6 separate regions of the Homo sapiens genome follow, and all the other regions are linked to region 1. Evidence: fine-mapped expression QTL. A gene starts in region 1. Each other region holds a variant in brackets. All regions are shown on one strand. Distances are from middle to middle. Region 1 holds the start of AMPD3 (adenosine monophosphate deaminase 3). Region 2 overlaps LYVE1 (lymphatic vessel endothelial hyaluronan receptor 1). Region 3 overlaps RNF141 (ring finger protein 141). Region 4 overlaps AMPD3 (adenosine monophosphate deaminase 3). Region 5 overlaps CAND1.11 (a long non-coding RNA gene). Region 6 overlaps AMPD3 (adenosine monophosphate deaminase 3).

Region 1 (5,117 bases):
TTCATGTTCATTTTCCTAGTTCTTCTCTCTCGTATCTGATATCATAATGATGATGACAATGATGTTGGCAGATAATGCTTATAAAACACATACTCTATGCCAGGTACCAGTCTAAACACTTCACTTATGCTCATTGTCATGGCAACCTATGAGATTGGCTTTTTATTATCCACACTTCATAGGGAATAAAACCGAGCCACAGAAAAGTTATTTAACTTGCCCAAGGTCATACAACTAAGTGGTGGAACAGGATTCAAATGCAGGGAGTCTAGCTGGAGTTTTTTTTGTTGTTGTTTGTTTGTTTGAAATGGAGTCTCACTCTGTCACCCAGGCTGGAGTGCAGTGGCACAATCTCAGCTCACTGCAACCTCCACCTCCCGGGTTCAAGCGATTCTCCTGCCTCAGCTTCCCAAGTAGCTGGGATTACAGGCGCCCGCTACCATGCCAGGCTAATTTTTGTGTTTTTAGTAGAGATGGGGTTTCCCCATGTTGGCCAGGCTGGTCTCAAAACTCCTGACCTCAAGTGGTCTGGCCGCCTCGGCCTCCCAAAGCGCTGGGATTACAGGCGTGAGCCACCACACTCAGCCTGAGTCTACGTTTTTAGCCATACACTCTACTCATTCCTGAGATTGCCATAGGTGGATTGATCTATTATAAATAGCTAGTTCACTTGTTCATTGTTTTATGCATTCATTCATTCAACAAATACTTGCTGAATGTCGACCATATTTCAGGTATGGGGATACAACTGTGAATGAGACAGGCGAGATTTGTCATGGAGCTGGTATTTAGCAAGTGAATCCCCTTTGTCCAACTCCTTGTGTGAGTCACACACACCTCACAAATGAGAAGAAAAATGAACCCCTCTATGCAAGCTCATGCCTGGCTTTTGGGGAGGAGAGTGATATCTTTCTTTTTCTTTTTCTTTTTTTTTTTCTTGAGATAAAGTCTTGCTCTGTCGCCAGGCTGGAGTGCAGTGCAGTGGTGCAATGTCAGCTCACTGCAACTTCTGCCTCCTGGGTTCAAGTGATTCCCCTGCCTCAGCCTCTCAAGTAGGTGGGACTACAGGTGCGCACCACCATGCCCAGCTAATTTTTTGTGTTTTAGTAGAGATGGGGTTTCACCACGTTGGCTAGGATGGTCTCAATCTCCTGACCTTGTGATCCACCTGCCTCGGGCTCCCAAAGTGCTGGGATTACAGGCATGAGCCACCATGCCCGGCCGATATCTTTCTTGATGAGACATAATTTGATTCCGTCCTCTCCTGTCTTTTAGAGTTTGTAAGGGGTGCTTAAGTGATAAAAGGGGATGCAGTCTAGTCTCGGGCAGGAGAAGCGGGCCCTGTATCTGGTTATCATAAATTGTCTTGATGTTTGTTCGAAAGGGAAATAAGGCTTTGAGCTTGGGATCAGTGCTCTTCAGTCCACAGAGACATCTTGGCTGCAAGAAGCAGCAACAAGTTAGGCTCAAGGTGGAATTGTGAGGTCCTGAGAAGAGCTTGCTCTTCTGGGACAGAACTGTATTTTTCTTCTAAACTGCCCATGTTCTGGGGAGTCTTCCCGCCTTTTGGCTTCAGCAGGACCCTTGGTCATTGTTACAACCTGTGTCATCTTAGTGGAGCTGCTGCTGGTTTCTGTCTGAACCCGATGCAATGGGTCTCATACCTGTAAACTGGGCTCCAGGAAGGCAGCTTTCTCTAAGTTGGAAAATGAAGACTCAAGGTGGAGGGTGTTTCCCAAAGCCGATACCACAAGATATTAATAGGTGTTTTTTTCCTATGACAGCAGTTCTAGGATGGTCAAATAAGTGCGTCGGGTTAAACAAAGTTAAGCAGCTTTCTTTACTGCAGGACTTCTCAGGTGTTGAATTTGCTAGTAGAAACTGTGCATGAATACCCATAAGGGACTACAGGATGCAGTGTTTTCCAAGCCTTCTGACCTTTCATGTTCTGCAGACTGCACTTTGAAAAATGCTTGTTTAGACTAAGGCTAGCTGGGATCCGGTTAAAGGTGCAGAATAAAATTCCCTGAACGTGTCGGACTTAAATCCTTGGGCTGGAATCCTCCCACTGCAGTCCCCACTCTACCTCCCCTTTCCCCAAAACACTAGCAGAAAAAGTCATCTGCCCCTCCTCCTTCTGGCAGAATAGTACTAAGGGCTTGGATTTTTTTCTCATACTGTAAGTTCATTTAATTGTTTAATGAATAAATATTACCCTCCCTCTAGGTTGCTTGTAGCCTGCTGGTTGCACTGTTTATGAAACAGCTGTGAGGACAGGTGGGCCGTAATCTCTGGGTAGCTAAAGCCCAGCAGCAGCCCGAGGATCATGTGTCAACCCTGTAATACTGCTCTGTGCACACAGGAATTATGATGTGAGCTCAGTAAGACACAACCTCACGATTGGACATGCGGAGGTGACTCAGGCCCAAGTCAGGGTTACAGCTAGCCTCCCGGTAAACAACTGACCCATCCTTCCTGAGCTCTTCTCCCCAGGATTTCAACAGCACCACAGAAATAGCCATTTTGCTCATGGTTATTTCCCAGGACCACAGGATTTGCCTAAGTCACTGGGAGGCTATGTGTCTGTTCTGAGCCTTCCCACTCTCCTAAAGGGCAGATGAAGATCAGAGCTTTGCACCCTGTGATGCCATTTTAATCAACCCTGCTTGGTTTTAGAGGATTGCTCCTGTGGGTCACTTGAGGCAGGCTCCACCTTCCCCAGGAGGAGTGGCAGAGTCCAGCCAGCGCTCGGAGCTGGAGGCCCACGTGGGAGCAGTGAGCGGCTGTAAGCAGGGGAGGGTTTGGGGTGGGCTCCGGTGGGTCAGTTGGGGTGTACTCCTTTTCTGTGTGTGTGGATGGGGGTGGGGGTTCTGGTAAAGCTTATCAGGCTTCGCAGTCACCTGTGATGTGGGCTTCCTTCTGGGAAGAAAGGAAGGAGTGGGATGGGGCTGTCAGCTTTTCATCCTAGCCTGCCCCTGTCCTCTGTCCGCCTCTGTGCTGAGGCAGTTCCTGCTCCCTGAGTCTCTGTCCTTTCCTGGGAAAGGTGGAAGCAGTTCATGGTCTTTCCCTTTCAGAGGAGGAGGGGATGGAGGGGATTGTATTAGCAACTGGGATTGAAGCTCCCCCTGGCAGTTATGGGGTGCCCTTGGGAGGGCTGCTTTAGGGGGGCTTTCTGAGAAGAGGCAGGTCGGGCTGTACCTGAGACCAATCCCCTTGATAAAATGCAGCCAGGCCTGAAGCACGTTCAGAACGGAAGCAGCAAAGGTGATGATATCGCTCGTTGCTACTCAGCTTTCAGGAGGAGGCTGGGCGTTAGAGGGAGGCTGTGGCTTATCTCCTGCAGCTGGGCAGGACGGCTGAGTTTACTGTTGTAAAGAGGAAGCCGCCGCTTTAGTTTCCTCTTGTGAGGGCTGTGAAGAGGGCCAGGACACTGCATTCAGGATACCACAGCCATTTTGTTTTGGATAACTGGGATTACCTGGGGACTTCAGGGCTCTTGGAAATTTTCCACTCATATTTCATATTCACGAGAGAATTTCCAGCCCAGGCTTTTCCTGCTCTGGCTCACTGCTGCTCACAGATATGCAAAACAGAGACCTCCTACTCCAGCCGGCAGACAGGACCCAGCCAGCTGCACGCACGCACTGACTCAGCTGAGCCTCCTGGGTGGCAGGCAGCACCTCACCCGGGTGCATCACTTGAGTGGCATCTTCAGGACCAGTCATGGAGCCAGGCTCAGGTCTGTGTCGGGGCTTCTGCAAGGGGAGTCTGGCAAGAGTAGGAACCAGCTTCCTTCGTATAACGAGGGGATTTCAGTGGCACTGGGCTTCCTTTCTGGAGGGACTGTGGCACCATGAAAAGTTACTGTTTGTTGAAACTGGCAGTGTTTTAGAACTTTCTAACTTTGGGACACTTCTTCAAGTTCATCAGAGCGTGTTGCATGTAACAGTGAGATAAGCTGTATCATTGGCTGACTGATGCTGGTGAATTCACAGCTAAGCCTCCCAAGCCTGCTGGCTTCAGCTGACAAAGGGTTGGAAGCCAGGCGTGAACATGCAGCTGGAGCTGAAGCTCTGCTTGGCATCTGCAGAGTGAGCTTTCCTTGTCAGGCCTGGCCTGGCAGGTGTCTGGAGGGTCTGAGAGGAGAGACACTCTGGAGGGACGGGTTGGCAGGTGGGAGCTGTCTGCCAAGGACATCCAGAAGGCAGCAGATGTGGGGGCAGCTGCTAAGGCCTGCAGCACCCCAAGTGGGTTACTTGGTCCATACTAAGATATGGAATTAATTATTTTGTTGTGGTTGCTGTTGTTTCTTGCTTTTTTTTTTTTTTTTTTGAGAGAAGGTCTTGCTCTGTCACCCAGGCTGGAGTACGGTGGTGCCATCATGGCTCACTGCAGCCTGCACCTCCAGGACTCGAGCAATTCTCCCAACTCAGCCTTCCAAATAGCTGAGACCACAGGTGCATGCCACCACACCTGGCTGTTTTTTTTTCTATTTTTTGTAGAGATGAGGTTCTGACATATTGCACCAGGCTGATCTCGAACTCCTGGCCTCAAGCGATCCTCTTCAGCCTCCCAAATTGCTTGGATTATAGGCATGAGCCACTGCACCCGGTCTTGGAATGAATTATCTACCAACTATTTAAGACACTGGTAGTAGTTCTGCGGAAGATTTTTATGGGTTCTGTAAAACAAAAAGGGTTCTGTATGTTAATGTTACTCTATGATCCTTGATTTTAATGAGCCTTATGAATGTGAGTTGAGGGGCTGTGGAATGCAACATCTCCCAATAACTGACCACAGGACCTGTTTTACCAGCAACAGGTATCAATTTCTTATGGCATCCAGTTTGGGAAAGGTTGATTTAAGCTAAAGAGAAAGGAAGATATGTTATAGAAAGCTGTGTCCTGAAAAGTATTTTTAGTTGATTAGAGCAAGCTAAAAATGCTTTGTGCGCTGGTATGATGGCTCACACCTATAATCCTAGACCCTGGGAGGCCAAGGCAGGCGGATCACTTGAGACCAGGAGTTCAAGACCAGCCTGGCCAACATGGTGAAACCCCATCTCTACTAAAAATACAAAAATTAGCCAGGCATAGTGGTGTGTGCCTGTGGTCCCA
Region 2 (5,117 bases), 100 kb after region 1:
AGTAGATGCCCACAAGATGGGAGATGTGGTGTGGGAGATCTGTTTTTTTTTTTTCAGCTAACACACAGAGGGAAGATCACTACTTAGGCGCTTTCCCTCTTTTCTTCTTTACTCCCTGAGAAATGGATGAAGCTGATAAAGCTTAAGGACTGACAAACCAGTTTCAAACTCATAGACCTACTGGGGCAGGCAGGTGATATATATGAGGGACGTGGGCTGGGTGTGAAGAAAAGGCCACAGTGTTACAAAGTTCATAGGAAAGGGCACCTTTACTTTGGCATGAGTGTGCAACAGAGAGTCATGAGGACTGTGGTGAAACAAAAAGAGCAGACCCCATTGAAAGGGGACAGCTGCTACTCAGTATCAGATAATGATTGCTATGAGGGAACATGGGTTCTTTACTTCCAGATCTTTCCATTTTTAGAGGGAACCCAGAAATGTAACCATGTGAAATCTCTTGATTTTTAATGCCTGGAAATGAAATCAAATTTTAAGATTATACTCCGTGGGCCAACCGGAAAAGATTATGCCAGCAGGTTGTGGCATCTGGGCCGAAGGAACCACGGAGCTGTGGGGTCACTGGTGAGGGGAAGAAGACAATTAGCAGTCTAAGCGGGAGGGAAAGAGAAAACTAGAGAAGCAGGGCGGTCAAAAGTGAGACGAATGAGCCATCCTGGATCTCTGGCTCCCTGGTGAATTCTGAAATGGATGGAAATGGAGGGCCAGCATCTCTAGTAAAGGACTGTTTAATGTGTATGTACTTGGCCAACTCAAAATAAAATGTTTGGAGCATGAATAGCCCCATATGATATATGCTGTTTGGTTGACATATGCTTGTATTTTAACAACCAACATTGTCCCTTTTATTTTTGCAAACAATATGATATGATCTGGTCCTCACTTTAATTTTACATGAAAGGTATAATGCATCTACGTAAATAAGAAAGCAAAGAAGTTTTCTAAATGCTTTAATTTTTTGTCACAAATATTTCTGCATCTCTCAGTCCCTTCTTGTTGGAAAAAGGAGGGCTAGTGATACATTTGTTAATGGCACTTTTAAAATGTGCTTTGGTATATAGAGGTAACAATGTACTTCTTAGGTATGTTAATAATAAATTAAGGTTATAATGGTTGCCATATTAGAGAAAATGAATAAGATTAGTCTCAGCAAAAATAAAAATTAGTTTGGAAGTAGATAAGCTAGAAATATCAAAACTGAAAAAAATAGCTTCCCAGATAGCGTTCTACTATGTGCAATTTTTTGAGGAATAATATTCAATTACAGAGTGTAATACCTTGCACAGCACTTGACATATAGTAGCTATTCAGCAAATGTTTGTTGAATTTTATTACTTTTTAAACAAATTACTGAGTAATCTTCCTTAGTAATCATTTCTGTAACTCAGATAAAAATAGAAATTTATAAGAGTTTTTATTTTTGTTACTTGTAAAAGTATATTTCCTAGAGAAAATATCAGCAGTGGTAGAGACCAGAAAAAGTAAGTGTGTGTGTTCTAAACAGTGATTCCAACTCAATGTGTTCAGAGAAAACACTTTGACCCTGTCTGTGTTTACAGTCCCTGCTGACAGTGTACTGTCGTATCCTCAGCCTTGTTCTATTTCTTTATTTTAGCTTTACAGAGATTAGGTCTCAAGTTATGAGAATCTCCATGGCTTTCAGGGGCTAAACTTTTCTGCCATTCTTTTGCTCTTACCGGGCTCAGAAGGACATGTCAGGTGGGATACGTGTTTCTCTTTCAGAGCTGAAGAAAGGGTCTGAGCTGCGGAATCAGTAGAGAAAGCCTTGGTCTCAGTGACTCCTTGGCTTTCAACCCACCTAGCCTCAGACAGCCAGGAGGCCTTTTTACCACTGGATACTGATGAGATGTTTTAGGTCCTTGCACTTTGCAAAACTCCTTTCTCCCAGTGGGATATTATTAGGACATAGCCAGGCTAGAAAGGCCGTGGGAAGCTTTGGAGGTAGGAGGATAGGATCCAGACAGGGTTACAATAAGGAGAAGGGCATTCTCTTTGGTGCACTCCATAGTCCAATGGCAGTCCTGAGCTGATTCCAGTTAGGAACCAAGGGTGGACTTTCTTCTTTGGTTCTTTGGCCCTTTTGATTTCCCCAGCTGGGGCAGGGTAAGGAGCATGAAAGAAACCAGCCTCAGGTGTGTCTCCTCATTTCTGTCTCATCTAAACTTCAGCTTCCAGGCATCGCACGGTAGTTTTGCTTGGACTCTTGGACTCTTCTGGGTTTTTATCAGTTTTCTTTGATTCCTCATTAGGGTTGCTATCATTGGCCTTCTCCTCCTTTACTACTTTGGTTTCGATCATTTCCTTCTGCTGATTCTTGTTTGTAAAAGGGAAGGCCTTCACATACCTTTAGGCAGAAACATGAAATTAAAGTGAGAGACTCTCACACATAACGATAGATAACACTTTTTGGCCATGGTACATATTGGCACAGTACACTGGATACCTTTATTTCAGAGTGATGCCAGCACATGCATGCTCTAATACATTAAGACATCACCACCTTAATGGATTCATTTAAATTGGACAATATGTTTGCAGGCCAGACTTTAGGCTGACCACATAACTCTTCCAACAAAAACAAAGAACCAAAAATCAAATAAAGCATATAAATTTTCCCCAGATGTCAATTTTTTTTAATTTCTTGATTTTCAAAGGACAGTCATTGACTGATGGCTGGACGACATGCATGT[C/G]CTGAAATAGAAAAGATTGGGCTGAAGGGAAAGAGATGAGATGAGGGAGAAATTTATATCAGAGGACTGCTATCTCCATTTTGATCAGCAAAATGCCAACAGTGACCCTGAAAAAGCACAGGATAGAAACATGACAAAGATTACAAGACTAGCAGTGCACCAACAACCCTACCTTTTGACATAGCAAAATCCAAGACCAGCTGCAGCACCAAAGAAGAGGAGAGCAAGCACTAGCAGAGCCGTGGGGACACCTGCAAGGAACAGAGACAAGGCCTGTTGGTCCTTCACTTAAACATTGTGTGTAATGCTCATTGCATGATCCAGGTGATTGAGACAGTAGACAGTACAGGAGAAAAACCTTCTCTGTAGCCCTTTATGATATTGGGCCCACACCAGCTTCTTTGCTTCATGCTTGTAGAATCATTGGCCTTGCTTCTCACACTCTCAATTCTATCAGTTGCAATATGACAGAGTTCATTTCTCCTCCATGGCCTTGAGACCTACTCTAGTCAACAAGCCTGCCTGAGAAAGAGATGACTAGAATAAAGTCATAGGCCTTTAGGGTATATATTTTAAAAAGAACTTATGCATAGGAACAGATAGTGATTTATTTTTAAAAGTCTTGAGTTTTCAACAGTGAAATTCTTTTATACTTACACTTTTTAGCTTAATCACTAAGGTTCTTTACAGCTCTCAGATTCTATGACTTCATGAAAGTTGAGTTTGTGTTAAGCTTTTATTAGTATTTGACAGGTCCTGAGCGCCTCATCTAAAGACAGGCAGGATTCTATGAATTATCTGTTATACATGAACATACATACACACGTAACATAGACACAGAAACCATTTACCTCCAAACCCAGCAGCTTCATTCTTGAATGCTGCTTTATTTTCAACAAATGGTTCAGTTTCTGTAGACATGGTGCTAGTTTCCATAAAAACTTCTGTGACACAAATCAATTTTTTTCTCCGTGGAATAGAAGTGGAAGCTGGAGCAGGAGGAGTAGTAGTAGGGGCAGGTATTGTAGAGTAAGGGGATGCCACCGAGTAGGTACTGTCACTGACAATAAATTCTGTTGTTTGTGTTGCAGTTTGAGTGTTGAATATGGGATCTTTGGTGGTGATAATTTCTGGAATGCACGAGTTAGTCCAAGTATCTGTTGGGATAGGGAAACATGGAATAAAAGTATTGCAACAGCCTCCTAACTGTTCTTCTTGCCTCTAGTCTTACTACCTCCAAACCCCTTATACCGCAGCTGGAATGGTCTTTAAAAAGCAAATCTAACCATATCACTTTCTTCCTTAGAAGCCTTCAGTGGCTATCTTTGTTGTATGGCCTACAAGGCCTTCTGTGATTTGGCCCCTGCTAACATGCCAGCCTCATCTGCTCTTTTTCTCTCATTGCCCCTGCCATACTGAAATTACTTGAAATTCCTTGATACACTTTATCTTACATCCAAGCCTTGCACCACGATGCTTTATTCACCTTTATGACTCTTTGCCTCTCTTTATTTAGCTTACTCTGACTCATCCCTCAGGTCTCAGATTGACCCTGTCTTTCTCAGGCAGACTTGTTGACTTGATTGGCATATGTTCTTGTACTTCCTTGTCACAGTTCTCATTACACTGTTCCCCACTGGACTGCAAGCTCTCTGGCAGCAGAAACCCCGTCTGTCTTGGTCAGCATGGTATGAGCACTGTGTGTGGTACATAGCACATGCTCAATAACTATTTGATGAATAGGGAAGGAAGGAAAAGGGAAAGGAAGGAAAGTATAGATTGGAAGACCAAATATACACATGTGGTGTCACTTCAGGACAAAGATATGCTAAGACCTGATATTTCTGGGCTCATTAAAAAAAGAAGTGAACAAAAAGGGACCAGGAGAGGGATAAGGGTTTGCTTTCCAATCTGTTGCATGTGCTAGAGAGGAAACACTTGTTAAAGCATCTTAATCTGAGTTGACCATGGCAGTAAGTGTTTAAATAGGTATCTCATTGAACAATATTACTAAACCCTTGTTTACACAGGAGGAAACTGAAGTTTAGAGAAATTGAATAACTCGCCCAAAGTCACAGAGCTAGTAAATGGCAGAGCCATGCAATATATTATAATATAAATTTGCATCTATTTTAAGTCCCTAATTATTTGTGGCAGTGGGTAGCATCAGCTGGGGTTGGGGGGTGGGCTAGCAGAGGGATAGCATTAGAAGAAATACCTAACGTAGGTGACGGGTTGATGGGTGCAGCAAACCACCATGGCACATGTATACCTATGTAACAAACCTGCACATTTTGCACGTGTATCCCAGAACTTAAAGTATAATAAAAATAAAATAATAAAATAAAATTATCTCTGGAAAAAAAGAAAAGAAATACATGGGATGGG
Region 3 (5,117 bases), 69 kb after region 1:
TGATTGGCTGGCCTTTCCATAAACTGTAAGCTCTTTGAATATAGGGTGTTTGTCTTAGATTCTCAATAAATGCTTCTTGAAGTGATTTTAATTTCTTTTAACCTTTGTGCTTTTTTGTAATTTTTAAGGTTTTCTTCATCAGACATGTATTACTTTTGTAATAATATAAAAACTGACTGTTCCAAAGTACAGCCACTAGACTATAAACTTCTTAAGGATAGGAGCTATCACTAATATGTTTTCCATTCCCTGTTGTGCTTATAGCACTGTATGTAAGATATTTAGATAGTACTTAAAATTTTGATTTGAATGTAAAAATAAATGTCAAATGTATATTAAATATAGTAAGTGCTAAGTAAAGAAGGAAGAGATGAATATATCTCAAACTTGTTGAAATGATGAGATAGAAAAACAATAGGATTTTAATAGAAGACATTCTAGGTGCATAAACAAAGTTGTAGAGGTAAAAAGCAAAATCATGTGTGTTTATGTCTGTGTATATGTAACCAGGAAGCTGGCATGATACTTGGGTATGGAAAACTGAGGAAAAAGATTGATTAGATAAAGTGGAGATAATCTCATCCTTAAATGTCAAAATATTAAGTTTGAACGTGTCCTGACAAGCAAACTACAATCAGTGTATAATCAAGGGGAAGTGAACTCCAACTGATATGGTACTTCAGGAAGATAAATTGGGAGTGCAGTATGAGGGACAGTCTAGAAAGAGGAAAACTGGTTAGGATCTTATTTCAGCAATTCATCTGAGAGATAATTAGGTCTAAGAAGCATTATAAAAGACAAATCTTTTATGTGGTAATAGATTAAGTGTTATACGTTAGTAACAGGGAAAAGAGGGAAGTCACTGAATTGGAATGGGAAAACTGAATAAAAACCTAGATGGATATGGGTCTAATGTATCTGAGTTTCTCAGTAGCAGAGAATATAACTGAATCTGTACAGAGTGAAAGAATATTCTGAAGGCTGGACTTTAAAAGTGAGAAGCAGAGGACTACAAAGAAGAGCATTGTGGAGAGAGATAAAAGAATGGGAGATACAGAAATAGCCAGTGGAACCAGTACAAAGTTCTCTTAACTTTTTGCTACCTTCTTAGCAGCACAGTGACCAGAAGGAAGGAGAGTCTTGTGCTGTTTGTTCCTGTTAGATCACCTGTAGATTGGAATATTTGGTTCTATGCCTCATACTCTGAAAGGCACACATACTGACAGAGAAAAGACCATCTGGGAAAGCCTCCAGTATGTAGACGAGACCCACATAAACAAAGGCCAAAGGAACTGGGGGTGTTTATCCTTGAGAACAGAAGGTTCAGTGAGAATTTGATGACTGTTTTCAAATATTTGAAAGGCTGGAAAAGAGAACAGATTTGTTTGGAGGAATTCCAGAGGGCACAGCCATTGAAAACAATAAATAGAATATAGTAACAATAATAATGACAGTTAACTCTTATAGACAAATTATTATGTGTCAAGCACTGTTCTGAGCATCTTATGTCTTTTAATTCTCTCAAAAATCCTATAAAGCATATACTACAGTTATCAACCTCTGTTAGAAGATGAGGAAACTGAGGAAACAGTTTGATTTGTCAAAAAAATCACACAGGAGTGGAGCCAGGATTTGAACACAGGCAACTTGCTGCTAGAGTCTGTGCCGTGCTGCCTCAAGAAAGATTTTGGCTACTCTGAGGAAAATGAAGCAATAGGAAAAACTTCATAGTGATTAGAGCCATCTGAGTATGAAAAGGCTTGCTTTTTTCAGGCAGTGAGTCTCACATAACTGCAGGTGTTACTTGTACTTGCAAGTCGGACTTGGCAAAATGTGGGTAAGCAGAGTCTTGCTATTCAAAGTGTTATCTGAGGATCAGCAGCATTGGCCCCACCTGGGAGCTTGACAGACTCTCAGGCTCCTCCTCAAAACCACTGAGTAATAAATTTTCAGAAGCTCTGTGTGCAAGATCTTTATGCACCATAAAGTAATAGGTTAGAGCACAGCTGTACTGCCAGACAGGCCTGAATGTGAGTCTTGGCTAGAACAATTTCTAATCATGACACTTACTTAGCTAAATCTCAGATTCTTTGGCTGAAATGGGCCGATAATTGTACTCCCATATGGGGTTGTGAGAATTTAATGAGTTTATACATGTACAACACTCATCACAATTCTATACCCTGTAAGTAATCAATAAATGTAAAACATCAATGGAATTATGCATCAGATGTAAAGTTCAACTACATAAATATCCCTTAAGACCTCCTTCAATTTAGAAAGTCTCTTTCTGTGAACTAGTGTATAAGGGTATTATTATAAACTGAAAAAACACACAAAAACAAGAAGCACCCCTAACAAGCTAATCAGGAACTGAATTTCCAGTTTTGAGGGCACATGAAAAGGGATAACACCTTTACCTTCTTCATTAAGAAGACTGTAACAAGAAAAAAACAATACTTTCTTTTCATGTGCTACCATACAGCTTAAATACATTGGCAAACACCATCCTCAGCTTTTAAAACAATTAAACAAAACAACAACCACTATTCTGGAGAGAAGAAAAGCAGAAAAATCAGATCCATCTTTGAAAGATTACAGAATACAGGAAAGACAAGCCTAAACACTGCCTACCATGTTCTAAAAGTCACTTGGCCTATCAGTAACACTTGTATAGACCAAACCTAGAAAACCAAGTAATTCTATTAAAGATAATTGGGAAATAATAAATGGAAAATACAGTTTAACTGTAACATAGTGCTTGAAAACCAGTTGGTTAAGAATGAACCAGAAAATGCAACTGTAAATAGAGCAGTAAAAAAAAAGAAACCACTGGCCGGGCATGGTGGCTCATGCCTGTAATCCCAGCACTCTGGGAGGCCGAGGAGGGCAGGATCATGAGGTTGGGAAATGGAGAC[C/G]GTCCTGGCTAACACGGTGAAACCCCGTCTCTACTAAAAATACAAAAAATTAGCCGGGCGTGGTGGCGGGCGCCTGTAGTCCCAGCTACTTGGGAGGCTGAGGCAGGAGAATGGCGTGAACCCGGGAGGCAGAGCTTGCAGTGAGCCGAGATCGCGCCTGGGCGACAGAGCAAGACTCCGCCTCAATTAAAAAAAAAAAAATCACTGTTAAGTACATTCTTAACTTTAAGGTAAAGGACACGGTGAATATAGATTTCTGCTATCTACCCAGTATGACAGTAAGACAGGATGTCAACATGTTTGGACCCATGTAAATCTTTTTCCAATGAGATATTTACAAATTTAAATTATGATCATGATTGTCAAATGTCAAGAAGTGGGAACTTTCATGTGCCAAAAGCATAACAGAGAAGGAAAAGAAAGTTTAGATAGAACAATAATGTATTAGGCCTGGGTAAACAAACATCATCAGAGAAAACTCTGGCTGACTTCATTTCCTTCTGGTAACTAAGTATATGCATTCGGTTCCTTCCTGAATGGACTGCCAAGTCCTGAAGCCAATATATAAAATTTTAATGCTTCAATTAGACATTTTTTAAAAAAAGTGGGATGATTTTGCCAAATTCTTTGACCTAATTCCCTAAAAAGCTTTGACTGTCTAAGAACCTAAATACCTATTATAAGGAAGGTGTTAACTATCTCCTTTGTCAATAAATGCATGCATATAGAGCGGATTCCTGGAGACCAGTGTGACAGAAACATTAATATTAAAGTGGCCCTGCCAAGCCACTTTAATTTAGCACTGTAACAACATCCGAAGCACAGAATAACCCCAAAACTGATCTCAGATACAATACCAACTGAGAAAAAAAAAAGATTTAAGATGCTACAATGAGCAACAGCAAAAATATTAATAGATTTCAGTTGTTTTCATATTAGAAAATAAGTGAAATACAATACTTATGCATTATATACCTTCCCATCCAAAGACTAGCCTGACAAGATGTTACAGAGGATGAGTTTTCATCAGGTTCTTCAGAGGTGGAGCTCTGTGCCAATACTCCTGCTGCTTGACTTGTGATATCTTTATAAAGTTGAATAAACTGGTATAAATTCATGATCCGTGATGCCTCCACAATGCCACTGCTTTTGTTAATCTAAAAATACAAAGAACATGAAAAAGAAAAGTTGATCATTTCTCTGACCAATTTTTCCCAAAAAGGGGGAACAAATATTTAGTCAAACATCCTAGGAAATAGGAGTTTTCAGGATTTGCAAATTACATAAGAAAGCAAGAGTCTGAATAAATGAGTAATACCATGTCCCCTACACTTGTGGGGTTCAAACTTCTTATACAAATTTACCTCATTTAACACACAAAATCACCCTGTAAGATTAATTAGGCATTATGCTGTTGATGGGTAAGGTGACTTTCTCAGAGTTAAGAAATAAATTTTAGAGATCAGTATTAACAATTCTTTCACTTTAATTTCTTAAAGAATTTCTTAACCACAGGATTCATTTGACTCCAACAACCGCATGAGATTCTACAACTCAAACAAGTACTTTCTTAAATATCTTTAAGTTCTATTTTGTACCAAAACTTCTAAACTAAAGCAAGAAAATTACTTTAAAATAAATCCTAACAAAAGGTGGTTGGACTTTTCCCAGAAGGCCATTTTGAGCTTTATCAAAAAACTCGTTTAATATGAGGTGAAACCAGTGGCCCAAAGGTTGTACCTTTACAGGTTGTACCTCTCCCCCATCCAGTTTACAATCTAATGTAGAAGATACTTGGGGCAAGCAGAGGAGATTGCTTTCACAAGCTTTGGGGAGCCATGGAGTGAGGCATAATGAAATGACCGAGGCCAGTAAGGTGAAGGTATAATGTTCTTGGATGAAGAACTTGAAATCAGAGAAAGATTAGAGACATGAAAGACTTCCTTTCAGCACAAGACATAGGATGGAAGACTGGGGAAGAAGTAAGCCATGAAATCTATTAAGTGCATATCAGAGTAAGAACAAGCAAAATCAGAAAATATTTAGAAAGAAATGAAGAATATAGGGAGAGAGACAAAGACACAGGGCCATAAAATTGTGACTTTAGGTTCTGGAATGTATTGATGGAACTAGGGGTATCAGAAAATGAGGTAGATTACATATTTTAAAATATTATTATACATTTGAATATTGTAAATG
Region 4 (5,117 bases), 47 kb after region 1:
CCCTGCAGGCTGGCCTCGGCATAGCAGAGGGGCAGGTGGTGGCCATGGCTGCTTTGCCCTTCACCTGGCTTGGCAGTTTCCTCCACTGTCACCACCACCACACAGGGGCTTGGCACTCTCCTGTCTCACCTCCAGAGTACCTATGGAAGCTCCGAAGGGGCAGACCTTGGTGTTGTACCCACTTTTCATCCCTGGGAGGAATATGGCCTCAGGCAGGCCAAGGGGTCCCCAGCTGAGGTGTGAACCTGAGGGGCCCAGACCCACAGGCCTCTGGCAGCTATGAGCTCTGGGAGGCTGAACCGAGGCTGAGTCCTGGTCCTGCCTTGGCCTGGTGCTCAGGACCTCTCCTGCCCAGGTGACGGGGTTTGACAGCGTGGATGATGAGTCCAAGCACAGCGACCACATGTTTTCCGACAAGAGCCCAAACCCGGACGTCTGGACCAGTGAGCAGAACCCACCCTACAGCTACTACCTGTACTACATGTATGCCAACATCATGGTGCTCAACAACCTCCGCAGGTGCGTGAGGCCTGCCCTCGCACATGCTTGGGTTCATGTGTTAGTACATGCACGCATGCACACACATGCACACACACATGCATGTGATCCTTGTGTCCGTGTGCACCTGAACCAACATGCATGTCCATGTGCCCACACACCTCAAAACACACAGCACTTTCCAGCCTGCTATATGAGGCATGTCTCCACATGATCACACACATGCAAACATGCCCACCATAACACACATGCCAGTACAGACATATGTCATGTACAGTATGCAATGCAGCCACAGTCCACACGTGTCCACACATTTATATGTACACACACCAGGGCACACTCCACGTGTACCTGTACATCCCTGAGATAATGGAAGCATAGGACATGCTATCACACATGCACGGTCACTTACTGCCACACCAACAATGTCCACACGTGCATATTTTCGTTCAGCAAATCACTGCATCTGGCATGCGATAGGCATTGCCCTGGGCACTGGACAAATAACGGGGAACAAAACAGACTAAATCCATGCATGCCCTTACAGGCAGAGGCTCCTACCAATACGCACACAGACGAGGCACACGTGGCCAGGAGTTAGCTGCCCAGGGCAGCAGGACACTGAGCCATTCCCTTCCCTACAAGTCTTGCATCCCACTTTCCCCTGCTGGGCCCTGGGGTCTCTCTAGCTCAGCCTAAACTGGTGCTAGTTGGTGGGTGTGGAGGTTTCGAATGGGGTCCTGATTGAAAGAAATGGCCTGGCAGGGTGGAGGCAGTCCTGGGCTGAGCTTTTGGAGATGGGGGCTCTGGTTCTGGCTTTGCTACTGACCTGTTCAGTGGCATGGAACATAGACTTCACTCTCCGGGCCTTGGTTTGCCCATTTCCATAACACAGAGGTCAGACTCTGTGGTTTCTCATGGCCTTCCCTGCTCTGGAGTTCTACGAATGCGGGACACAAGGCCAGGAGAGGAATTCAGGAGAGTGGCTGGAGGGCACAGCAGGGTCTCTTTCTACTGCGAGGCCCACTCTCTGCCCGTAGAGGTGATGCTTCTTGGTTCTAAGGGGCCCCAGGGCCTGGACCTCTGCATTTTAGGAGGGGTAGTTTCCAGGGTGCACTGGGTCAGCACAGCTGACCATGGGTGGTCATTCCCCCCGGAGCTGGCCCTGAGCTGTGGCTGCAGGCCCCAGGCAGAGCCAACTGGGGGGGGCCTTCCTGATTCGGAAACCCCTTCTCTTACAGGGAGCGCGGCCTGAGCACGTTCCTGTTCCGGCCGCACTGTGGGGAAGCCGGCTCCATCACCCACCTGGTGTCTGCCTTCCTCACTGCTGACAACATTTCCCACGGGCTGCTCCTCAAGAAGGTAACCAGGTCACTCTCGGGAGCCCGTCCTGAGTGACTGCCCTGCCCTGGGCTCCTGGGAGGCTCAACCAGTGAGGCCAGAAGGCTGGGCCCTCTTCTGGGCTGGGATGTCTGTCCTTATCTTGGTTTTATTTTTAATTATGAAAGTAATATAATCAAACTCATCACAATTTTGATTTTCCAAAAACTGGAGAAATGGAAAAAAGCCAGCCCTTATGCTATTACATTAATAGAAATAGCCATTATTAGCTTTTTAGTATATCTAATTTCCATCTTTTATCCACAGCATATTTTTAATGTGTTTATTATCATAATGAACACAGAATTTGGTTCCTGCCTCGTCCCTTACTGTTGTATGACAAGCATTTTTTGATGCTGCAAC[G/A]TAATATCTATGCTCCTTTTTCCAAAGGCTGTTGTTGGATGAAGGGTCTGCCACTTTGTCTGTAATTGACTCAACCAGTCCACACTAGTTGGGCACAGAGTCCATCCACCTTTTCACTGGTGTACCCTTGAGCTCTGTGCATACAGTCTTCTCCGTATTTTGGATCACTTTCCATTGGCACGATGTTTGATCAAAATGCTCCCTTTCCCTGATCCCGGTGAGGTGTAACCATGGGTCACATTTTTGGGTGGGGTGGGTGCTACAGTAGAAAACCACTCTATCCTGGGCAGGTCCACCCCTCCCATCCCTTCAGGGATCATCTCCCAGGAGCTGGAGTGTTTATAGTCTCAACCTGGCTGTTTGCAGTCAAAGCAATAAAACAGCTAGAGGGGGGCATCTTCTAGACTGGGTCCGTGCCTAGGAGAAAGGAGCTGAAGGTGTAGGCTGGAGTGGGCTGCCCTTCCTGCCCTGAGCCTTGCCTCCAGTTTGGAGCAAGAATGAGCACTTCCAACAGTGGGTAGAGGCACCAGGGAGGGCTGGCATGCAATGTAGGAATGAGATGAACAGTGGGGAAGGGGAGAGTGGGTCTGAGTGTCCTGGCTTCGAGGAACTCGGGTTGAGGACTTGGGCAGACATGGTTCAGACCCCTGGTTTCCACTGGTGAATGCTTCTTCCCTTCCTTTCTCCCTTCCCTTTTCCCTTCTCCCCTCTCTGGCACTTGTCACATGAGTTCGGTGGTTCTTTTGCAGAGTCCGGTATTGCAGTATCTCTACTACCTTGCTCAGATCCCCATTGCCATGTCTCCTCTTAGCAACAACAGTTTGTTCCTCGAATATTCCAAGAACCCTCTGAGGGAATTCCTACACAAGGGACTGCATGTTTCTCTTTCCACCGATGACCCCATGCAGTTCCACTACACGAAGGTAAGGACTTTGGGGTGAGGACAGTAGTGCTTCAGTAGGCACCAGTCCTAGCCTGTCCTCCCATTTCAGGAACCTGAGCCCATGGCTTAGTTCTGCTTTTGGGGTGGGGTTGGTGGCCCAGTGAAGGCAGGAAGGAAGCCACTGTTGGGGGAAAATTGTGCCATCCAGGAGCCCTTTCTTTGGGGTTCTTGAACCCTCAAAGGCACAATTTAGTATCTTTGCCTTCCTCTATTTTCTCTTTCTTTGACATTTATGAGCTCTGTGACCTTGGTAAAGTTATTAGATTTCTGGATCAAGTTCTTCTTCATCTGTAAAATGGAGATAAAATTTTCTCTGTCCCTACCCTGTAAGGATTCATGAAGATAATGAATCAAAGGTTCTAACATAGTGTCTGCATATATTCAAAATGGTTGCTACTTTTTAAATCAATGCTATTATAATTTCTACACTTTGGGTCTCTGGGAAAATAAAAGAGGAAGCTAACAGTGGTGTCATGCATGGGGACTAGCCGCAAGTATACCCAGCATGTTTTGATGGTGTCGACAAGACCAGCCATTGCTTAACAAAAACAGAAGCACCAGAGTCTTTTAGGACAGAGGTTCTCCAACCTCTTGGTCTCTGGACCCCTTTATACTCTTAAGAATTGAAGCTTTCAAAGACCTGTTGTTTATGTGGGTTATATCTACTGATATTTACCATGTTAGAAATGAATAAGAAATTTTAAAATATTTATTATCTCATTTAAAAACCACATCAATAAACCAATGAAATGTTACATAATAATGATTTTTTTTCTGAAAAGTAACAGTTTCCCCTGCCTTTGTTTTGCATTTTTAAGCCTCTTTAATGTCTTAATGGAAGTCAGCAGGACTCTTCTAGCCACTTCTGCATTCAATTTGTTTTTAATCAAAATATGTAAAAATAGAAATCTTGCCTCATGAAAATACATAATTGGAAAAGACAAGACCTTTCAAAAGGTCTTAGGACCCTCAGGGGTCCTTGACCTGTACTTCGAGAACTATTGCTCTAGGCTACAGCGGCAGTGGGGTGGGGAAGAGGTCACAGACGGCTTGTGATGAATAGACACTTCACATCCCAGAAGGGAAGCAAAACCACAGCTCAAACCCAGATCATTCTGGGATTACACCATTTTACCACTTATCCTATGATCACTTCTCATTTTTTTTTTGATGTTCCATCTCTGCTTTTAGTACTTTACTCATCTATCTATCTATCTATCTATCTATCTATCTATTTATCTATCTATCATCTATCTATCTATTGCAAACTTAAGAAAATAGTGTGTTAAAAAGAAAAGCTAGAGGGCAAGTGCTAAATGTGGCATGACTAGAGGGCTTGTCACAGGAGAGCAGAGACTGCCATCCCTGATGACTGGCACAGGGTTTCAACATGAGGTCTCAGTGCTGGTCAATGAATAAATGTAGAGGCGTGATTTTAGATCTCTCTTTGATAACCCATGATTTTACAGAAGAAAAGATCTTAGGCTTTGAAGGTGTGATGTTTGATGATCCAGGTGCCATTTAGTGAGGAAAAGTTAAACCCGCAGTGTCTGATGTTGTTAGCTTTGGACATGTGTGAACGATTGACATGGATATCCCCCCTTCTAATCCACATGCTTTGGGGGAGGATCTAGGAAGCACTTATGGAAGAATATGCCATTGCAGCTCAAGTGTGGAAGCTGAGCACCTGCGACCTGTGTGAGATCGCCAGGAACAGCGTGCTGCAGAGCGGCCTCTCGCATCAGGTATGGAGTGTGACGGTGCTGCCTGTGTCCCTCCTGGGAAGGCTGCCTGCTGTGTGCCAGGAGCCTTCCAGGCACTGGGGATCTGTGATGAACATAGCAGGCAGGGCCTCTGAGACACTCAGGCACAGGGAGAGAAGACGCGGCAGCCTCCTGTGTTTTCATGGCTGCTTCCTCACCCTTCTCAGACC
Region 5 (5,117 bases), 42 kb before region 1:
TAGCTACACAAGATATTGCCTAACAGCCTGGCCTTCTATGATGTGGGACCACTGCTTGCCTTTCTAGAACCTTCAGACCTGTAGATGGGCTCTTCTTGGACATTCTGGAGTCCCTGGGGGAAAGGGAAGTCTGAAGCTCAGTTGGCCACCTCTGCATAACAAATACCGAGAGCACTGCAAGTGGAGCTTGGACAAGGTCTGGAAAATCAGCCTTCTTCTGGATGCCTCCAGCCTTTGCTATCATCTGCCTAGGAGGTTGGAAGTTACTCAAGCGGCTCAAGGAAAAGGTATTGTGAGCATGCACCAGGTCATGTGATTGGAAGGGCTATCTGCTCCTGGCCTGAGGCCAGCACCCAAAGCTGTCCACATCTCCCAGGGACAGCAGCATCTTTCTTCTTTACTACATTCTCTCTCCTCTCATCTTGATTGGCTTCCTCTGCCTGTACATGGCTAACTTTGCTACCAGCCAGAGTGGGAGTAACCCACAGCCCCTAAGTCCCCTCCAGAGAGGGCTGTCAACAGGGCTGGCTGCTGAGCTGGGGAAGGTGGGAGGGTCTCACCATCCCATATGTAGATTTCACTTAATTTCCCTGCTTTCAGGACAGTGCTTCACCTTTAACTTCCTCTTTGCCAGGTATCGCTTATCCTTGAGTGTCTCTGGATCAGTTTCTCTGGAGATGAAATTATCTATGGCCTACCAGGATAGTTTCCAGGCAGTGCAGAGTTGGGAGGAGGACTGGGGTAGAAACACTTTCTTATAAAGACTTCTGCCCTATCCACCTGTTTTCAGCCCCATTTTTCACCCTGGCTCCAATGCATGAGGCTTTGTGGGGTCGGTGGTCGGAATTTGCTTGCTTCTTGCTAACATTTCTCTTTGCATTCACTTTGGTTTCAGCTCTCTCTGCTTTGCTAAGCTGGTTATCATCCAGCTTCTTACCTCTTCCAATAATTATTGACTTCTCTTGTCCTCTGTCATGTTCATGCCATTCTCTTTGCTCTTGTGGGCTCACTCTTTTTCTTTTTTAACAAAATTTCATTACTTTTACTTTAGTGGGTGTCAGGATGGAATGGACATACCACATGTGTTTACACCCCCATGTTTCATTAGAAATCCTAGTCACTGTTCAACACATTCTCTCAGCTCCATCAGTCCTTTGAAGCTGTTCTTGTCAAGGACACCACCATTTCCATGTTGCCAAATCTCTTGGTCACTTTGCTGTCTGTCTTCATAATACTCAGTCTCTCAGCAGCATTCCACACACTTGACCACTCTTGAAAAACTTGCTTCTTTTGACCTTCATGATAACACATGCTTCTGATTTGTCTGCTACATCCACTGAGCATGCTTCACCCTCTCTTGCTATATCTTCCTCTTCTGGGAATTCCCATGGACTCTTTCTTTGGTCCTCTTCTTTTCTCTATCTATACACTTTCCCTAGCTGATCTCATCTAGTCCTAGGGCTTTAAATACTTTCTATATACCAATGACTCTCACATATTTATCTGCAGCCTTGATAGCTTCCCTGAATCTCAACTATCTACTTCTCCCAGACATCTCCATTTGGATGCCTAATAGCATCTTAAACTTAACTGGGCAAACCTGAACTCTTGATTTTCACCGCCAAACCAGTTCCTTCTTAGTATTTCCCATCAAAGTCATGCTCATACACTGAGTGGCTGAAGGCCAAAACTCAGGATCATGCTTCACTCTGCTCTTCCTTTCTCCTTTCCCATTTACTATGTCAGCAAGCCCTGTCGGTGCCTCCATGATATATGATTAGTGAGTCTGCTTCTCCATTGCCACTGCTGACTGACTGCTCCTGTCAAGGCCACCATCATGTGTTGCCTGGGCTATTCCAGTTGACTCCTGAGTGGTTTCCTGGCTTCCACTATGGCCCTCCAAGGATCCACCTTCCGCATAGTAGCCAAATGATTCCATTAAACATGTCTATCAGGTTATGCCACTCCTTTGTTTAAAATTTTCCAGTGATTTCCTGTTGCCTTAAAATAAATTTCACACTTCTTACCAAGGCCTCTGCTCCTCTGCAAACTCTTTCTCTTCTTTTTAGAGATGAGGTCTTACTATTGCCCAGGGTGGGGTGCAGCAGCTTCATCATGTTTCACTGCAGCCTCAAACTCCCAGGCCCTGTCTCAGCCTCCCAAGTAACTAAGTCAACAGGCATACCCCACCTCACCTGGCTAATTTTTTTTAAAAAAGAGATTTGGTCTTACTATGTTGCCCAGGCTGGTCTTGAACTCCTGGCCTCCCAAAGTGCTGGGATTATGGGTGTGAGCCACTGTGCCCAGCCTAAACTCCTTTTTTTTTTTTTTTTACACAGGCTTAATCCACTATGGCCTTTCTGGTCATCTCCCATTCCTACCCCAGGACCTTTATACTTGTTCTTCCTTCTGCCCAAGAAGGAAGACTGCAGCCACAATCTTGATGCTTACTGCAGCCACAACTCCTCATCATTCAGGTGCAAGCTCATACATTCTCAGAGAGGCTCTCTTAGTCTATTTTATCTAAAGTAGGAACCCCTTCTCCCAAATCATTTGCTAGAACAGTGGTCCCCCACCTTTTCGGCACCAGGGACTGGTTTCATGGAAGACAATTTTTCCAGGAATGGTTTTGGGATGAAACTGTTCCACCTCAGATCATCAGGGATTAGATTCTCATAAGGAGCGTACAACCTAGATTCTTCCATGTGCAGTTCACAATAGGGTTCGCGCTCCTATGAGTATCTAATGCCACCACTGATCTGACAGGAGGTGGAGCTCTGGTGCTAATGTGAGCGATGAGGAGAGGCTGTAAATACAGAGGAAGCTTCACTTGCTTGCTGGCCCACAGCTCAC[C/T]TCCTGCTGTGCCACCCAGTTCCTAACAGGCCATGGACAGGTACTGGTTCATGGCCCTGGGGACCCGTGCTCTAGAACATCACTTTGTTTTGCTTGTCTTAAAAAATTCATAGTAGGTATCATTATCCAAAATTATTTTATTTGTTTACTTGCATACCAGCTAACTCTCCCCATTAAAAAATGGACTCTATGAGAAAGGGTCCTTGTCTGCATTGCTCATTTTTCATATCTTTATCTACCACAGTGCTTGGAATACAATAGGTGCTCAATACATACATGTACAATAAATGAATGAATGACCAGTTAAGCTAAAGGGACTAGGAGTAGAGACAGTCCCTGGAGAGGGGGATGTGGGTAGAACAGGCATTCCACAGCGTGTCTCTTGAACTTTTGCTTCATTCTAGGCCAGAGTATGACACAAAGTCTCCTAATTTTATAAAGGGTCAGTAAGCACAAATTGAAGGGAAAGGTGAGGGCAGGGGCAGTGGATGTGGGGAGCGTGGGACAGCTCAGGAAAGGTGCAGTACGTGTTGCTCTGCAAAGATTTTGCTCCATTCTTTTGTCCCAAGCCGCACAGCTTTTCCATTGTGACATTCTGTAACTTTCTGGAAATTTTTTTTTTATGGCCCTTGGGTAATTTTCCACGTGGTCAGCCAGCTCCGTCAAGTGCAATGGTGAGGAGTGGGACTCAGAATGGCTGGGAGGCCCCGAGACCATCAGACAGGGAAGATGCATGTCGTTTGCACCCGGCACTGACTTCCAGCTCCCTTTTGCGTAGGAGGCTCCTGGACTGTGACATACAGGATGTTCCTGTGTGGCTCTTTTTAAGGAAGCCTATTTTTCCTCCATGTTAAAACTAAAATCTGTGGTCTAGCTCGGAGCAGATGTTAAGAGCACATTCTCTCTAAGAGTGTGGGCTGGAGTGTGGGCAATGGCTATTTATCACCGTTTCCTTTTCTTTGTGTTTCTCTGTGGTTATTGAAGTTTTTGGTTTGGGGAAAAACAACAAAAACAAAAATAGCAACATATTTATGAACAAAGAAGAGAGCTAAAACTTAACATCTGGAAGAGAGGAAAGAGGGGAGTAAGGTGCCTGAAAATAATTTCCTTTAGGAGTGACTGGAGGCTTCAGGGGGATCACAGCACTCCTGTGGAATTTTTACAGAACTAAGGAAGGCTGGAGTCAGCCAAACTTTTGAAACCTCAGCATCCTAAACCTCAACTCTTGCTGCCCTGAGAAGAGCATGAGCCGGCCAAGCCCTGGTGGCGGCTTCCCCAGGACCTCCCACTTCCTTCCTGATGTGCCTGCAGTCCTGGAGCTGTGATCGCCTCTTCTTTAGCTTCTTAGAAAAGAGGCGGCACAAGAAAAACGCTCAGTCATCTTGCAGAGACTTGGCATCTCTCAGCAACACGTTCTCTCTTTCTCTCTTTTCTTTTTTCCTTTGAGATGGGGTCTCGTTCTGCCGCCAGGCTGGAGTGCAGTGGTGTGATCTCGGCTCACGGCAACCTCTGCCTCCTGGGTTCAAGCGATTCTCCTGCCTCAGCCTCCGGAGTAGCTGGGACTACAGGCGCACACCACCATGCCTAGCTAAGTTTTGTATTTTTGGTAGAGACGGGGTTTCACCATGTTGGCCAGGATGGCCTCGATCTCTTGACCTTGTAATCCACCCGCCTCGGCCTCCCAAAGTGTTGGGATTACAGGCGTGAGCCACCACGCCCGGCCGACACATTCTTATTAACTTGATGGCACAGTTGGCTGGCAGGTTCCCAGGTCATGTTCTCAGTGATTGGAGTTCTTGCTGTTTCTTGGACTCCTTCATGTCTCACCCAGTCCTAAGTCCCTTCCTTGCTTCTTAATTAATTTATGTCCTTGTGTAATATGTGGCACACCCACATAGCCATGAGGCATGTTCAGGCTGTGTTTTTTAATGTTCTGGCTTGTTCTACATTTGCCAAGTGGGCAAGGACAGCAGTTACCTGATTGGCTCCATTTGGGCAGCAGAACCTAAACAGTGACTACCTGTTGGAATCCACCTGGCCTAGGTATCTTTTGTTTGTTTGTTTAAATAACAACAAGCATTTCTTATGGTGTTTTGTTTTCTCCTGAACTCTGTAAAGACAATGGCAACACAGAGGTCAGTCTAGAATGACTATACTGGCACTAGGAGATGAGAACTATACAAGTGGAATTAAGCAAATGTATAGACACAAAATCATCACAAAAAGGGTGAAGTGCTGTTCAGTTATTGATGCCAGTCCCTCTT
Region 6 (5,117 bases), 27 kb after region 1:
AAGTCAATTAACGCAGTCACTGAAAATGTGCTAATTTCACCTGATTGGATGATGCATTTTTTATGCATGTCTGCTTCTTGGAGAGAAATATCACTGAGTTAGTGCCAGGGTTAAGTTTGGCTCCATCTCCCTGGCCCCAACTCACTACTTAACGCCTCAGTTGGCTTCATTAGTCTCTTTTTAACAGTAGCTGTAGAAAATATGGTGAATCTGAGAAAGCAATGCAGCTTATTGCTCTTCCTATAAAATTTCCCCTAGCTTTCAAAAATTTTTTTGGTTATGTGTAATGGAGAACACTTGCAGATGGTACAAAATTTAAAAGATACAAAAATGGTATCAATTATTCAGCCACCCATTCTCCTCCTCAGAGGCAACCACTGGTTTTAGTTTCTTATGTATTCTCACATATATGGTCTATGTACCTACAATTATTTATGCATACATAGTTTATTTACTTATTTTTACAAAAATGGTAGTTTACAATATACATTATACTGCATCTTGCATTTTCCACTTAACAATACATCTTAAAGATAATGCCATATCAATATATAAAGAACTTCTTTGTCCTTTTAAAAAATATGTACATAGTATTCCTTTATGAGGATATATCATAGCTTATTTTAATTAAGTTCCCATGGATGGGAGTTTAGGTTGGGTTGGAAACAATGCAGGCCTTGTCTGGAGATCAGCATCCTGACCATGAGTCTTTGGTGTTCACCCAACCTGAGGCAGGTGGGCAGGGCATTGGAAAGCAAGAGTCGAGGTGGGTCGGCCACCAGCTGAATGGGAGGATGTCAGCCTGTAGCATATAATAGCTTCTTTCTCCCAGTCTCCTGGCTGGCACAGAGTAGTGCATGGAGCACCTGAACTGGGCAACTGGTCCTCAGAAAGCTAAGTGTCTGTGAGAGGCAGGCTGATCTTGCAGATCTCCTTGGCACGCAGTAGGTCTGCTGTCAGCCATGGGGCCTGTGATGCCTGTAAGCTTGGCCGGTGGCCACGGGTCCACAGGGGTCCTGAGCATCCTCTCTGATGTCCTTAGCCATGGCATGAGCCCCTTGTCATGCTGAGTCCATTGGTTCCCCAGAGAAAGAATTTGGCTTCGTTGTTGGCAGGGACATATTTTTGTCTAGGATGTCGGTGTCTGCTCACCTATTCCTGCCGCTCTCAGAAGCCATCCACTGGAAGATGTAAAAGGAATTAACATACCTTATGGGGACATTTGGAGGCAGGAAAGGAGAATCTACCATCGTAACAAAAAGTCTTGCTTTTTGTATTTAGTATTTACTAAATACTACTTCTTAGTAGTATTTAGTAAAAGTATAAAAACATGCATAGGAAAAATATATTCAGACTTCTTCCCTCTGAGGATGGGGTAGGGAGGAGAGTAGAGTTTTAGCTGTATCTGTGATGATTTATTTCTTTAAACCTGTGAGAAATTTGAAAGAATTATGCTAAATATTATTGTCAGCTCTAGAAGGTAGGTTATATTATCTTTGGTGCCTGTCTGTATGTTTAAAATATTACAAAATTAAAAATGATGATTTTATTAAAGCAGAGGAGATCACTTTCAGGCCCCAGCCCTCCCCACTCTGGGCTATGCCAGCATATGGTGCCTCCCTCTGCTGTTCCCCTTACCCTGCATTGTGTCTGTCTGGCCACTTGTCTCCCCAAGCATATTTCTGCGATTCCCATCCTTCCCAAACAGACTAAGATTAATGAGCCTGTTGGAAGGCGGGAATTTATCTCATTCATCTTTGAATATGAGGCTGCTCTGGTAAAGCAGAACATCCTTAGACTTTGGGACTCAATCAGGTTAGAGTCTGAAATTTGACTCTGTAGCTTCCTGGCAAGTGATTTATCCTCTCTGGGCCTCAGTTTTCCCATTTGCAAAATGGGTTGCTGTAAGGAGCAAAATGAAATCTATGGAAAGGTCTGGCACATAACACATGACAATGGGGCTTGTTGCCTGGATGAGTTGGGTGATTAACAGAGTTAATCAGAAGTGTGGGGTTGGCAAAGAAGCAGGCTGAGCATGCAGAATTTGCTTTTGCTTCTTGTTTTGTTTCGCCATCTGAAGGACACATGAATTTTCTCAACTGAAAATGACGGTGCTCATCGCCTTCAGGGATAGGACTCAGGCTTTGTCCCTCCATGGGCCTGGTACAAAAACAGACTTTTGGCTTAATTAGCTGCATGTGAGGCCGGCTTCTGGGTGTGCAGGCTGGAGCACTTGTCTGTCTTCCAACGACCCTAACTCCTCCTGTGTCTCCTGTGTTGGGGGTCTCCAAGACCACTCCAGGTTGGATGATTCACCAGGAGGACTCACAGGACTCAGCATATAGCTGTACTTACAGCTTTGATTTATTACAGTGAAAGGATACAGAGCAAATCAGCAAAGGGAGCGATACATGGAGGATACGAGGTGCAAGCTTCCAAGGTCCTCTCCCAGCAGAGTCATCAGAACATACCAAATACCTCCAGCATCACATTGTGACAGCACATGTGGGAAGTGTTGTTTACCAGGGAAGCTCATTAGAGATTCGGTGCCCAGGGTTTTCACTGGGGCTGGTCACATGTCTGCATAGCACATCTCAAATTCCAGGCTCCAGAAGGAAAGCAGGTGTCCAACATAAACCATATTGTTTGTACAAGTAGTTTAGGTGCAATGAACCACTCTTATTGGTCAAGGAGTGGTGAGAACCCTCCTGAAATCTAGGTTCCCAGATACCAGGCAAGGGCCAATCTTGCAAGCACATCTTTCCAAGGATGGCAGTCTCAGGCCTGCTGCATGAACCCTTTCCTGCCTGCCTCCCTTCTGCAGATCACTTTGGAGGACTATGAGCAGGCAGCCAAGAGTCTGGCCAAGGCCCTAATGATCCGGGAGAAGTATGCGCGGCTCGCCTACCACCGCTTCCCGCGGATCACATCCCAGTACCTGGGTCATCCGCGGGCGGATACTGCACCTCC[G/A]GAAGAGGGCCTTCCAGGTATGGAGCTCTGGCTGGAGGTTGGGTCCCAAGTGTGGGCAGACCGAGAGCTAGTCAGGGCTTTTTTCTGGCTCGGTCTATTTCCCCTGATAGTATTTTAAAATGACAATGTTCTTTCATTGGCTTCTCCCACACTGATGTTTGATGGTTCCCCCAAGGATTGATTCTATGTGTACTGTATGCCTAGCCTGTGCAGAGCTGAACTGTTGAAGTCAAGACAGAGATGTGAAAGACAGTCCTTGTTCTTGGGAGTCCACCAGGGAGACAGGGAGTCTCATGTGGGAATTTTTTTTTTCTTTTTTTTTGAGATGGGTCTTGCTCTGTTGCTCAGGCTGGCATGCAGTGGTGCAATCATGGCTCACTGCAGCCTCAATCTCCTGGGCTCAAGCAATCCTACCACCTCAGCCTCTCAAGTAGCTGGGATCAAAGGCACACACCGCCACACCCAGCTAATTAAAAAAATATATATTATTATGTTTTGTAGAGATGGGGGTCTTACCATGTTGCCCAGGCTGGTCTTAAACTCCTGGGCTCAAGTGATCCTCCTGCCTTGGCCTCCCAAAGTGCTGGGATTATAGATGTGAGTCACTGCGCCTGGCCTCATGTGGCATATTTAAAAGAACACAATCACACAGTAAATGCCAAATTGGTGGTAGGGTGGATCGGGGTGGGAGTAGGAACAGAGGGCATGTTCCCTGGGAAGACATGTAGGCTCTGGTGTCAAACACACCTGCATTTGTATCTGGGCTCTGTCAATTTCTTGGGATTTTGGGAAAGATATTTCTCTAAGCCTCACTTTGTAAAATGTAATCTGTAAATGGAAATGCAAATAATACCTATCTCCCAGGGCTGTCGTGAGGATTAAACAGGAGAATGCATGTGAAGTACTTAGTTCAGTTCTGGCATCTAGTGAGTGTTCAATAAATGGTAGCTACATTTATGCTGCCGAGTTCAGGGAAGGGGAGGTCGGAGAGGGCTAGGTGGTTTCCTCATGAAGCCTTGCCATGAAGAACCTAGGAGCAGTAGAGGCAGTGATGAGGACAGTAGGAAACCCCACTCCTGAAAGTTGGTGGTGGGGGACACATAAGGGCCTGGTGGTCTCCATCAATGCCTGGGACCCTGGCTGCCTCTGGGGGTAGCTGGTGGTGCCAAGTTGCCCCAGTCTCTGGCTTCCTTGAATTTCAAGTCCTGTACTTTGAGCATCTGGGGCCCTAGGTAAATCTCAGCCCTTTGGGCCTATTTCCCTATCTGAGGGAAGTGGGTCCTACCACCCCAGTTTTGGCAAAGACAGACAGAAATGACTGTCAAATGTGTACTTTACATGGACAGAGGACCCCTGGGTTCTGGGCATGAGTATGGGGAAGAGGAGCAACTTCCGAACATGCAGGCTGTAGCTTCACCCGGGCCTTGAACTGCCTGCATCTCACAGACCACTGCATTGCATTAGGGCCTCCTGAGCTGGCCTGTGGCCGTGCCTGATGGGGCATTCCCCTCTCCAGCTCTGCCTGCATCAGCCCCTCTGTGGCTCCTCACATGTGCTCTAGGGATGGTCTGTTCCTTCCAAGCACAGATGGAGGATGCCCAGGCAGGTCACTCTGCCTTGGCAGCTTCCTTTGATGCAGATCTTGAGGTTTGCTCCTGCCTATGCTGGCAGCTGGACAGCTGATCCTGGATGGTGCTGGCTGAGCTGCATGGAGTTGAAGCCTCCAGCTCTACTGATATTTAGCATCAATACACTCCTTGGCCAGGGACAGAGTTTATCAAGAGTCAGGAAAACTAATTATGAGAATAATAAGAATAATATCCTATAATTCATTATTTGTAGTGCATTACTGTTTATGAAGAATTTTCCTATACACACTATTGCAACCCTCACAGCAGCGTGTTAAGGCAGGGGGTGTTATCTTCAGAGGAGATAGGCTCAGAGAGGTAAAGGAGTTTGCTGAAAGTCTCACAGCAGGGAAATTGCATAGAGGAGTTTTCTACCTCCTGTTGGCTAATTCTAACCTTAACCTATAGTGGTTGGGGGCAGATGGCTTTATCATTGGCATTCTCTGCTCTGGGGGAGACAAGTTCCCTATCCTTTGCTCCTTTGGGGAGGGAGTGGCTTCTTTATCTAGCCCCTCACCT

The links. PIP is the estimated chance that this variant, and not a neighbour inherited with it, causes the effect. A credible set is the group of variants that fine-mapping cannot tell apart.
Region 2: its variant is the best candidate, but not a certain one, in a credible set for the expression of AMPD3 in whole blood (Lepik 2017, PIP 0.58).
Region 3: its variant is the best candidate, but not a certain one, in a credible set for the expression of AMPD3 in lung (TOPMed, PIP 0.81).
Region 4: its variant is the best candidate, but not a certain one, in a credible set for the expression of AMPD3 in whole blood (INTERVAL, PIP 0.76).
Region 5: its variant is the best candidate, but not a certain one, in a credible set for the expression of AMPD3 in whole blood (TOPMed, PIP 0.54).
Region 6: its variant is the best candidate, but not a certain one, in a credible set for the expression of AMPD3 in whole blood (TOPMed, PIP 0.71).

What each region holds. Positions count from the first base shown.
Region 1 is chr11:10,452,664-10,457,780 of GRCh38, forward strand. It overlaps AMPD3 (adenosine monophosphate deaminase 3), which reads left to right and starts at 2,601. Exons shown (of 15, transcript NM_001025389.2): 1 at 2,601-2,785. RefSeq lists an enhancer at 3,476-3,525.
Region 2 is chr11:10,556,915-10,562,031 of GRCh38, forward strand. It overlaps LYVE1 (lymphatic vessel endothelial hyaluronan receptor 1), which reads right to left. Exons shown (of 6, transcript NM_006691.4): 4 at 3,581-3,886; 5 at 2,902-2,980; 6 at 52-2,383. The coding sequence ends at 2,197. All of the region lies in intron 1 of IRAG1-AS1 (IRAG1 antisense RNA 1), which reads left to right. Among named protein-coding and RNA genes, the nearest start is that of LYVE1, 9.2 kb to the right of the region's middle. The variant C/G (reference allele first, on the strand shown) is at 2,730.
Region 3 is chr11:10,521,299-10,526,415 of GRCh38, forward strand. It overlaps RNF141 (ring finger protein 141), which reads right to left. Exons shown (of 6, transcript NM_016422.4): 4 at 3,894-4,075. Among named protein-coding and RNA genes, the nearest start is that of MIR4485, 16 kb to the left of the region's middle. The variant C/G (reference allele first, on the strand shown) is at 2,919.
Region 4 is chr11:10,499,731-10,504,847 of GRCh38, forward strand. It overlaps AMPD3 (adenosine monophosphate deaminase 3), which reads left to right. Exons shown (of 15, transcript NM_001025389.2): 11 at 356-519; 12 at 1,740-1,860; 13 at 2,991-3,164; 14 at 4,819-4,929. Among named protein-coding and RNA genes, the nearest start is that of MIR4485, 6.0 kb to the right of the region's middle. RefSeq lists an enhancer at 339-932. The variant G/A (reference allele first, on the strand shown) is at 2,242.
Region 5 is chr11:10,410,690-10,415,806 of GRCh38, forward strand. CAND1.11 (a long non-coding RNA gene) reads left to right here. Exons shown (of 4, transcript NR_103765.1): 3 at 68-287. Among named protein-coding and RNA genes, the nearest start is that of AMPD3, 42 kb to the right of the region's middle. The variant C/T (reference allele first, on the strand shown) is at 2,854.
Region 6 is chr11:10,479,239-10,484,355 of GRCh38, forward strand. AMPD3 (adenosine monophosphate deaminase 3) reads left to right here. Exons shown (of 15, transcript NM_001025389.2): 4 at 2,825-2,987. Among named protein-coding and RNA genes, the nearest start is that of MIR4485, 27 kb to the right of the region's middle. RefSeq lists an enhancer at 1-7. The variant G/A (reference allele first, on the strand shown) is at 2,971.